3 separate regions of the Homo sapiens genome follow, and regions 2 and 3 are each reported to be linked to region 1. Evidence: microRNA targets listed by miRTarBase, many of them from high-throughput screens and not tested one by one. Region 1 holds a microRNA gene; each other region holds the end of a gene's coding sequence.
Evidence for each region. Region 1 holds the annotated microRNA hsa-miR-448 (UUGCAUAUGUAGGAUGUCCCAU, at 1,783-1,804, shown strand). A microRNA usually pairs through its seed, bases 2 to 8, with sites in the 3' UTR of a target mRNA and lowers its output. Matches are read on the target gene's strand: a 7mer-m8 pairs with bases 2 to 8, a 7mer-A1 pairs with bases 2 to 7 and ends in A, and an 8mer does both.

Region 2: miRTarBase lists THSD7A as a target of hsa-miR-448. Seed matches in the 3' UTR shown: 7mer-m8 at 163-169.
Region 3: the mRNA of RAET1L is a reported target of hsa-miR-448. Seed matches in the 3' UTR shown: 7mer-A1 at 2,095-2,101.

What each region holds. Positions count from the first base shown.
Region 1 is chrX:114,821,742-114,825,001 of GRCh38, forward strand. It overlaps MIR448 (microRNA 448), which reads left to right and starts at 1,713; the gene lies at 1,713-1,823. All of the region lies in intron 4 of HTR2C (5-hydroxytryptamine receptor 2C), which reads left to right.
Region 2 is chr7:11,372,932-11,376,191 of GRCh38, forward strand. THSD7A (thrombospondin type 1 domain containing 7A) reads right to left here. Exons shown (of 28, transcript NM_015204.3): 28 at 1-2,947. The coding sequence ends at 2,863. Among named protein-coding and RNA genes, the nearest start is that of PHF14, 400 kb to the left of the region's middle.
Region 3 is chr6:150,017,494-150,020,753 of GRCh38, reverse strand. RAET1L (retinoic acid early transcript 1L) reads left to right here. Exons shown (of 5, transcript NM_130900.3): 4 at 515-646; 5 at 1,899-2,420. The coding sequence ends at 624. Among named protein-coding and RNA genes, the nearest start is that of RAET1L, 6.4 kb to the left of the region's middle.

The sequences.
Region 1 (3,260 bases):
AGTTTACTTTAGTTTTTAGTGAACATTAGAATGATAGCATGGCCATGTTGTTTATCACTGAAGCACCTAGGAGAGTTAGCAAATGTTAATCCTGCTAGTGTCATCAAGACTAAACAAATTATAAAGACTAAATATCCTTTTTTTTTTTTTTTTTTGAGATGGAGTCTCACTCTGTCTCTGAGGCTGGAGTGCAGTGGCACGATTTTGGCTTACTCCTACCTCAGCCTCCCAAGTAGCTGGGCTTACAGGCACGCAACATCACCCCTAGATAATTTTTGTATTTTTAGTAGAGATGGGGTTTCGCCATGTTGGCCAGGCTGGTCTCGAACTCCTGACCTCAGGTGATCCACCCACTTTGGCCTCCTAAAGTGCTGGGATTATAGGCGTGAGCCAACATGCCTGGCAAGATTAAATATACTTTTAAAAAATTATATTTTTTTCTATTGACTTAGAAATCACTCTACATTAATGACATAGTCAAAGAGATTTTACTTTTGTTCTCTTGTAAATAAAATACCAGATTAAAGGTATGCTTAATGTGATAAAGTAAAGCCAAAATCCAAACCAGAAAATCTAGAGTCATAAAGTTAAAGCCACAATTATATCTTATTCTCTTACCTACTCATTTCTTTTTCCCCACTACTGAGAGGATAGAGTCACATAGTACAAATCAGCAGAAGTCCTCATTATTATATTCTTGCTTAGGCAAGAATTCATGATTGCTTCTTTGTCCTTATCCCTTTTCCACCACTCAAGATCCATACAATAGAAGAAATAGAGAATCATTTAATAAAGTTGTCTTCCATTCAACTCTGAAGAAAATATCAACAGAGAAATGGAAGTCTTTTCCATGCACTCATAGGTAAAGTTTTGAGATCAGCTTGAAAGGAGGTAGCTCAATTGGAAATTACATAAAAAATTCCAGGAAAGATGGGTTGTGAGACTATCTCAGAAGAGAAAATCTAGGGTTTGTTTGTTTGTTTGTTTGAAGATATTGTAGATTGTATTGAACCTCTCAGGTGTCAGGTCCTGATGAAATTGTAGGCTCACAAAATTTTGCAGATAGGAAAGTTCTTGGTGCTGAGAGACTTGAGATGAGCAAGTACATAATGCAGAATTTGCTAAGCTAAATGAACAGGGCTGATTGAATTTGTCCTTAGCTAAGTTTCTTTATTTTGTAATGTGGTGGTCACATTGCAGAGCCGCAGAGCCTAGGATCTCATGATGCTTCTAGGCCTGTGTTTTTGGCAACTAAATTGTGATACATCTGGGATAGCTTTGGTAAAAAGTGTGTGCAGCCCATCTGGGGTCTTCCAGCCATAGAATTCCTCTACTGTCATGTAAGAAGTCTGTTTATATGATTTAGAAGCAGGTAATACAGGTTGACTAAATTGGAAGTGGAGCTGGGCAGTGTTTGTAACCCAGAAAATATCTTGGTACCTATAAGTGTCAGGAGATTTTTCTCCTTTTATTTAATTGGTGGGAAATGATATTTTTGAGATAAGGGGTTTAAGTTCAAGTAAGAGATGAGTTATTGGTTGACAAGCTTTTGGATCATTTAGGCTACTTGTAATCACAACCAGTTCATCAGGAAAAGACCACCAGGCCAGAAGAGGCTTTCATGACAGCATTTACACAGAGAAGCATCAATCAATGTCAAGCCTTTCAGCAGAAACTGGAACTTCATGGTGCAGCAGTTCATCTTCGCATGGGCCGGGAGGTTGAACATCCTGCATAGTGCTGCCAGGAAATCCCTATTTCATATAAGAGGGGGCTGGCTGGTTGCATATGTAGGATGTCCCATCTCCCAGCCCACTTCGTCATGACAGACACCAGAAACACCACTCTGCTTCACTGAAGAACAATAAAATCTGCGTGTCATGGAAACACAGATGCTAGAGCTGCATCACTAGAAAGGCATTCTGACAAATGTATTTAGAGGAGGGTAGAGTACTGACTGCTATGACCTTGGCTCATAAGAGGCAGTGGGTATGTGAGTGGATCTTTAAGCTCAGGGCCAGTAGATCTGCATTAAACCATATTAGCAACAACACTGGCCACACAGATAATGCCTCCAGAATTGTGCCACCTACTCTCAGAGCTACACCGAATTAGGGAGATTCAATAGTTGGGCATATTTATTTAGGCTAGCCAGAGCCAAATACCTAGAGGTAGAGAGAATCTAATTCTTAATTATAGAAAAAAACAAAGATTATATCCTGAAAAGCAGCCTAGAATTTCAAGTCTGAGGGTCAAGGTAAGATAGTAAATTAAAAAATATGTCTCAAAGTCAGAAGAAGGATATTTGGGAGGAGTATTCCAGAGAAGAACTAACAATTCTAAATTGAGCAGAAACAGTCTATTACACTTTGAGGCAAGAATCAAGTTACAAGGAAGTAGGTGTGATTGCAAAGGGAGAAAGTTAGCGGCATGTCCCTACAAATATTTCAGAGATATAATTTCTGTCAGCTGCAGTATCCAATCATATCCAGGGAATTCTGTCAAAAGCAAGGTGATAGGAAATATCGAGAGCAGGGCCCAGCTCTTAAAAACATAGGGCAGGATTAAAAGTAATGCAAAATCCAGCCAATCCTAGCGGCCCTTCTACTTCTGGATTGGTACAGGAAGGATATAATCTCAGAATAGAAATAAGCCATTTAAATGGAATATATTTAGCTTTATAAATAATTGGCTGTTATACATAATTTTCCATTTTCACTTTAGACTGCTGAAATTTCACTATGGATCTTTATATGAAAATGACTAATCTGTAGGAGATGCTACTGGCAGAGAATCAATTATGTCAACAGCACAAACTTGAGTTGTATCCTGGGATGCTATCGAGTTTTCCACTGACTTTAAATTAGGGTCAAGTTAAACAGGCCATCTCCAAAGACTTTGGGGTTCTAAAAAATGTTGATTTGCTATGCATTCGAATCTGGGATGAGTTTCTAGTCAACCATCCTGGCTTTGGCATTCTTCACAGTGGATGGTAAGTGGGCCAATCTTAGGCTGAAAAACAGGCTGATTTAGGGTTTGGGATTTAGAGCATTTATATCTCTTTATTTTCCTCAGCAGCACAGACTCTCCATTGGAATTAGGGGCTTAGTGAATAGTTCAAAAAACGTATGGTTTCATATACAAGGACCCCAAAGTTCCATGCAAATGTATGAGCATACTGTTATGTATAATACCCATGTAATTTCTGTAGAGTCTATAGAGATATCACCTCTTTGATCACTGATAATTGATAATGTGTG
Region 2 (3,260 bases), not on the chromosome of region 1:
TTCTCCTCTTTCCACCTTTCTAACGAGGTTATCCAGTATTTATTTATCCTAACAAACAGTGACCTTCCAATATGTTCTCTAATATTAGGTCATGTTGAACCTAATTTCCTCTCTCTCATATATATGGGTGTGTGTGTGTGTGTGTGTATATATATATATGCATGCATATATGCTGTAAAATCTAATTAATTTATGAATAAAATGTATTTTTCATAACATTCTATAATTTTGATTTGCTAATTTAATTCTTATAGGTAGGATGATACTAATCTTTTCTGAATTAATGACATTTTACAATACCTTAAATATAGCTTTAGTAGGTATTCTATCCCACATTTCAAAATTAATAGGTGTTGCACACATTTCATAAGAGGGTTAGCTGAATTTTTCAAGTAACCACAATAGAGTCTTTCTTAACTATTTTGGACAAATGGAGTTTATTTTATTCAAAGAGATCAACTTTAGGATTATCTGGAAGACCCCTGATTATATATATTGACAATCACAGTTTTAAAGTAACAATATTATTTTTTCTTCCTCTTTAATAAAACAGATAAAATGGACTTTGTTTTTATGGTTTTCTTTGTTTAAATCCTTGCTTTAAAGTAAAATTTTCATCTTCCTGACTACCTGTTCTCTTTGAAATGATTTACATTTCCTAATATAGTGAATATTGAATGAGGAATTAGCGCTTACTGCATTTAGTTCTTATTGAAATACATACAAATATTTTCATTTTGGGGACAATGACATCCTAACCTGATGTCTTTTGTAATCTTTGCAAATACTCTAATGAACAGCAGGGGGAGTTCATACTCCAGTATGAAGGTAAAAATACCTTCTAATCCAAAACACTTTTACAGGAACACAGCTGTTTAAGATAAAATAGCATGTTAGTTATATTATTTTTCAAATATCCTGAAAAGCTAGTGTCCTCTCTCACAAAGGTTGTTGCAATAATGTTGCCTGAAAATGGTATTGCTTTTTAATGGCACCTTTTGAGTTTTCTTTTCATTTGCAAGAAGTCTGCTGAGTTAGTTAAATATTGTTCCACTGTGCCATTCCCAGGGCTACATCTGTAGAAAATACAGCTACTTCTGATACAGTGGGAAATGTAATGACTGTAAATTCTCACCTTTGAAAAATGAATGAAAACGAAAGATGACACCATGGAGAGCTAGCATTAAAAAACATCCAGACCAGGGGTCAGCAAAATATGACCTGCAAAGGTGGCCTACTGGCTGTTTTTGTAAGGGAAGTTATATAGGAAAACAGTTATGTTCATTCTTTTATTTACTAAGATTGCATTAGCAGAATGGCAAAGTTGAGAAGTTGCAACATAGACCTTGTGGAAAATATTTTCTATATAGTCCTTTACAGAAAAAGTTTGCCACTCTTGCTCTAGATATGCAATGAAGTCTTGGATAAGATATTTATTCTTCTCTTTTAAAATTTTAGTTTTGAAATCATACATTGAAGAGAGAGATTGCTTCAAATTTTGCCAGTGAGAAAGGCAAAAGACTATGGATTTTGAAATAACTGCCTGCAAGACAGACATTCAATCTGAAACTGGGAAATCAGAGAGAAAGAAAAATCAACATATAATTTTGATTTCCTTTAGTTACAAAGGTCATTGATACATTATTTATTTTCTCCATCTGCTCAAAATTAAAAAGACATCCAGTTCCTTTTTCTTTTTTTTTCTTAACAAAGATAACAAATATAAAAATCTAGTCATAAACAGCCTTCAAAGAACAATTACAAACCAACTAGAGGAATCCACCTTTTAGAGGGTTAAGGGGTTAGGGACTTCAACACTTAAATTACCGCCATGTTGTCAATTTCACAATGGCTGCAGTGATGAGGAAGTGTGTGTACAGCAGGTGTAATAGCTGATTTCATCTTGCTGCCATCCAAACTGAACTTTACTCTCTTCAGGATACAAGAACTTGCAAATGTCTTCATGCCACTCTTGGCACAGATGTCTTCATCCCACATGAAAAGAGGCAGTTTCTATGGCAATACTGGTTAAGCGCCTATCGTGCTGCACTAATATAGTGCAAAAATGTGCCTTCCATATAGCAAAAAAGATGCAGGCAACCAGTTTGAAAATCAGGGAAAGTAGAAACGTATTGTATTAACACAAGTAAATTAGTTTTCCAGACAATTACCACTATAAAATACTGAACTTGAGGACTCGTTCTTCTAAGACACTAGTACTTGTCCAGCATTCTTACTTTGGAGAGAGACAAGAAGTCTTAAAAAAGAGGCTTTGTCTCTGAAATGCAGGTCAATAAAATCTACCATCGACCACCAAGATGCTGAATTTATTCAGTGGATTTTCTGCTTAGCTTAGAGTTTATTTGTTATGCATTGTTAAAATTGCTTATTAGCAAGTACATAATCTGACATAATGTGTGTCATTCAACTGAGTACACATGTTAATTTGACCATAGTATTGTGGAGATCTTGGTAGAAACTCTTCATGCTAGGAAGTTTTATGGATTAACACTGCAGACGGTCTTGTATCAGGCATCCTAACTGGCCAATTCCACCATTATTTTTTAGAGATGAAAGTGGTTTTTCAGTCGGTAGATTTCAGAAAAGATGACATAAAACTTTCAGAATGCAGCATGTATTCAGCTAAATCTCCTATAATTCTCACGGTTGATGGTCTGTATATAAGTGGTACTGTCTTAAATATCTCCAGTGGCAGTATGATTTTCACTCTTGTCTTTATGATGCCATTTTTAAAAATTAAAATATATTTTAATCCACACAGTTTGGATACATTTGTTGTGGCCTCTGGACATCTATGAAGTCAGAAAGCCGAAACTGGTTGTTGCCAGGAAAAGTTATATGTTACATGTCGGCATCTCCATCATAGGCTAAGGTTAAAGGTTTCAGTCGGTTGTTTTGCCTTCTTTGGGGTTTCTTTGGCTTTTTGCTGTAAAAAAATTCGGAATTAGGAGAAAGAAAATCAGTTTCTAATTGTAAATTTGATTGCTTTAAGCGAAAAAAAAGTAAAAGCAAATTGATAAACTGAAATTGCCTCGTTGCCTGCGTTGCCTAAAGTCTATCTACCTTAGAATTTGATTTTCTGATCTTGAATTTCAGTTTTATGCTTTGAATAAACTCTAAGTAAACTTCAAGTGTTTCACTACCCTACAAAAGATAAATTATCCAAGTGGGATTCTTTTAGTATTAACAACAGAAATAAAATCATAGTAGGGTCATTTTCATTTGGCCAGAAACCTTTA
Region 3 (3,260 bases), not on the chromosome of region 1:
TGCCTGTGCCCTCCCACCCTCCTCTTCCTTCTCCCTCCTGACTCCTATTCCTCACTGCACTTGCTTCTGCTCCCCACACTGTGGATTTCTCACCAGCCTTGAAACTGCAGGTGTCACTGTTTTCAGAACTTTTTCCTTAGTGTTTCCTCTTTTGAGAATCACTTTTCCTTTCCTTTCCCTGGTCTGGTTCTGGAAATCCATCAAAACCACTTCCAACACCAGCCAGAGATCCTCCCCTCCCCAACTCTGGGGCATCACCTCCTCTTCCCCCACAGCAGGAGGGTGGGGTGTGTTGTCACCTTGCTTCCCTCAGCAGCTGTGTGAGCTCCCTGAGGACAAGACACACCCCGTCTCCCTTCCTAAGCCAGGACCTGTCATACTGGCTGCCCCACACCAGGGGGGAGGGGACAAAACTTTTGCCTTCCAGGATGACCTAGGGTGGCAGGAACTGAGGAGGTGTCTCCTCAGATTTGGGGCCTGGACAAGGGTTGTCACTTTTGTGTTTCCATTTCAGCACCACTCGCCATGTCCTCAGGCACAACCCAACTCAGGGCCACAGCCACCACCCTCATCCTTTGCTGCCTCCTCATCATCCTCCCCTGCTTCATCCTCCCTGGCATCTGAGGAGAGTCCTTTAGAGTGACAGGTACTGTGGGCAGAATTGGAAGTGGAGCAAGGAGCAGGTGGGTGAGGAGGCAGGATGGGGAAAGAGAATTCCCGGAGTCCCGCCCCTCCCCGTGGCTGGGACCTTCTCATCCTAACATGAGACAGGTGAATGAGACCTTGTGTTGCCTGTTGGCAATGTTGGCAATGACCTGGGCAGCTCAGCCCTGAGTTCTGATGGTTTCTCACCTTCAGAGTCCAGAGGGAAAGGGAGGGGCCCATACCAAGGCTCAGGGTCTGTTGAGCTTGAGAAGGTTTAGCAAGTTCAGGCCTGATTCAGAGCAGGTTCCTATTCAGGAAGGGTGTGTGGCCTGCAGGCAGCAGGAATTCAGACATGGGCAGTCCTCTTAATTGGGTTAGGTGCATCATGGTAGCTTTACATGAGGTGTGACAGGGGAAGGGGGATTCCATCTCTGAGGCTAAGAGAGATCTGGGTGTAATCCCAGGAGGAGGGGGCTGGGAGAGCCTTGGTACACCTAATTGAAAAGGAGGGAGTGCAGGGCTGCCTTCCCACAGAAAGTAGGTGGAAGGTGAAGAGTAGAGGCTGCTCAAGAGAAGGATTTTTAAAAAGTCAGTCCCATGTACCCGTGGGGTTTGAGTCTGGGCCCTGAGGCAGCTCCCCTGCCATCACACTCCTGCACACCCCAGATCCTGAGCCCAGTCATAGCCCTGCCAGGAGCAGAGTGGACTCAGAGGAAGGAGCATCTGAGCTGCTGCTGGGGTTCCACGGGCACCACTGGGCTGGATAAGGAATGGAAAAGGTGGAACAGGGACAGTCACCTTCAGAACTATGGGTGCTGCTCCCAGTGTGAGGTGATGCTCAAGAAGAAGGGGAAAGAAGGATGTTTGCCTGCAGGCCCACCAAAGGCCAAGGGCACAGGAATACAGAGCCCTCTCTTTGGAAGTCTGTCCCACCCCTTGCCATGTTTTAGACCCTGTCATCAGATGATAAAGAGGGCCTTGAGTGAGGGAGCGGACCCATCACTACCAGCTTCAGACCTGTGGGCCCCTCCACTCCATCCCCTGGTCAGGTGCAGGGCCTGGGCTGACTCTGTGATGTGACAAAGGAGGAAAGAGGTAGGTCCAAGCTGCAGTCGCCAGGGTTGGGGCTCAAGGGAAAAATAGGTCCCTTAGTGCAGGGGGCTCTGAGACATAGAGTGACTAGGGAAAGATTACCGTGGAAAAGTGATCCGGGTTCTCTGCCTCTTAAACCAACATTTGGGTCCTTTCTGAAGGTTAAAGATGATACCAAAAAGCCCCTGTGAGCACGGTCTTGATCAACCTCGCCCTTCTGTCTGGCCAGCTGCCCACCACCTACGGTGTATGTCCAGCAGCCTCCAGCAGATGATGATGACACCATGGACCCAATAGCTCATTCACTGCCTTGATTCCTTTTGCCAACAATTTAACCAGTGATTATTCCTAACATATTATGCAATTTTCTCTTGGTGCTACCTGATGGAATTCCTGCACTTAAAGTTCTGGCTGACTAAACAAGATATGTCAACATTTTCTTTCTTCTCTTTTTGTTTGGAAAATCAAGTACTTCTTTGAATGATGATTTCTTTCTTTCATTACTGACATGATTGTCAGTAAAACAATCATGTTAGACTTCAGACCTCCAGGGATTCTTTCCATGTCCTGAAAGAGAATTGTTTAATTATTTAATAAGAAAAAAATTTATATTAATGATTGTTTCCTTTAGTAATTTATTGCTGTGTACTGATATTTAAATAAAGAGTTATATTTCCCAAAAACCTACTGAGTTTAGAATTTTGTTGTATTACTCAGTAGAGAATTAATGTTATTTCATTTTTCCTCCATGATATGGAGTAATAAATGAGTGATTCTGCCAGACTTTGTGTGGAAAAAGAGAATCTACAAAACATGGCTGAAAAAAATCAGAGACAAAACAAATACATGGAAAAATATTTCATGCTCATGGGTTGGAGAATCAATATAGCTAAAATGGCCATACTTCCAAAAGCAATTTATAGATGCAACACTATCTCTATCAATACCAATGTCATTTTCCACAAAATTAGACAAATCTAATCTAAAAGTTCTTTGGAGTTAAAAAAGAGCCCAAATAGCCAAAACAATCATAAGCAAAAAGAACAAAGCCAGAGACACCACATAGCCTGACTTCAAACTATAATATAAGGCTACAGTGATCAAAACAGAATGGTACTGGTACCAAAATAGACACTTAGATCAGTGGAACAGAATAGACAGCTCAGAAAGAAACCTTCACACCTTTTAACTTTCAACAAAATCAACAAAAAAAGCAATGAGGAAAGAGTCCTAATTCAATAAATGGTGCTGGGATAACTGGCTAGCCATGTGTAGGAGAACGAAACTGAACCTCTACCTTTCACCATATATGTAAAATAACTCGACATGAATTAAAGATTTAAATGTAAGTCCTAAAACTATAAAAATCCTGGAAGATAACCTAGGAAATGCCACTTTGGACATACAGCCTGACAAAGATATCATGATGAAGACACCAAAAGCATTTGCAACCAAAAACAAAAATTGACAAATGTGACCTCATTAAACTAAAGCGCTTCTCCACAGTAAAAGAAATTAGCAAC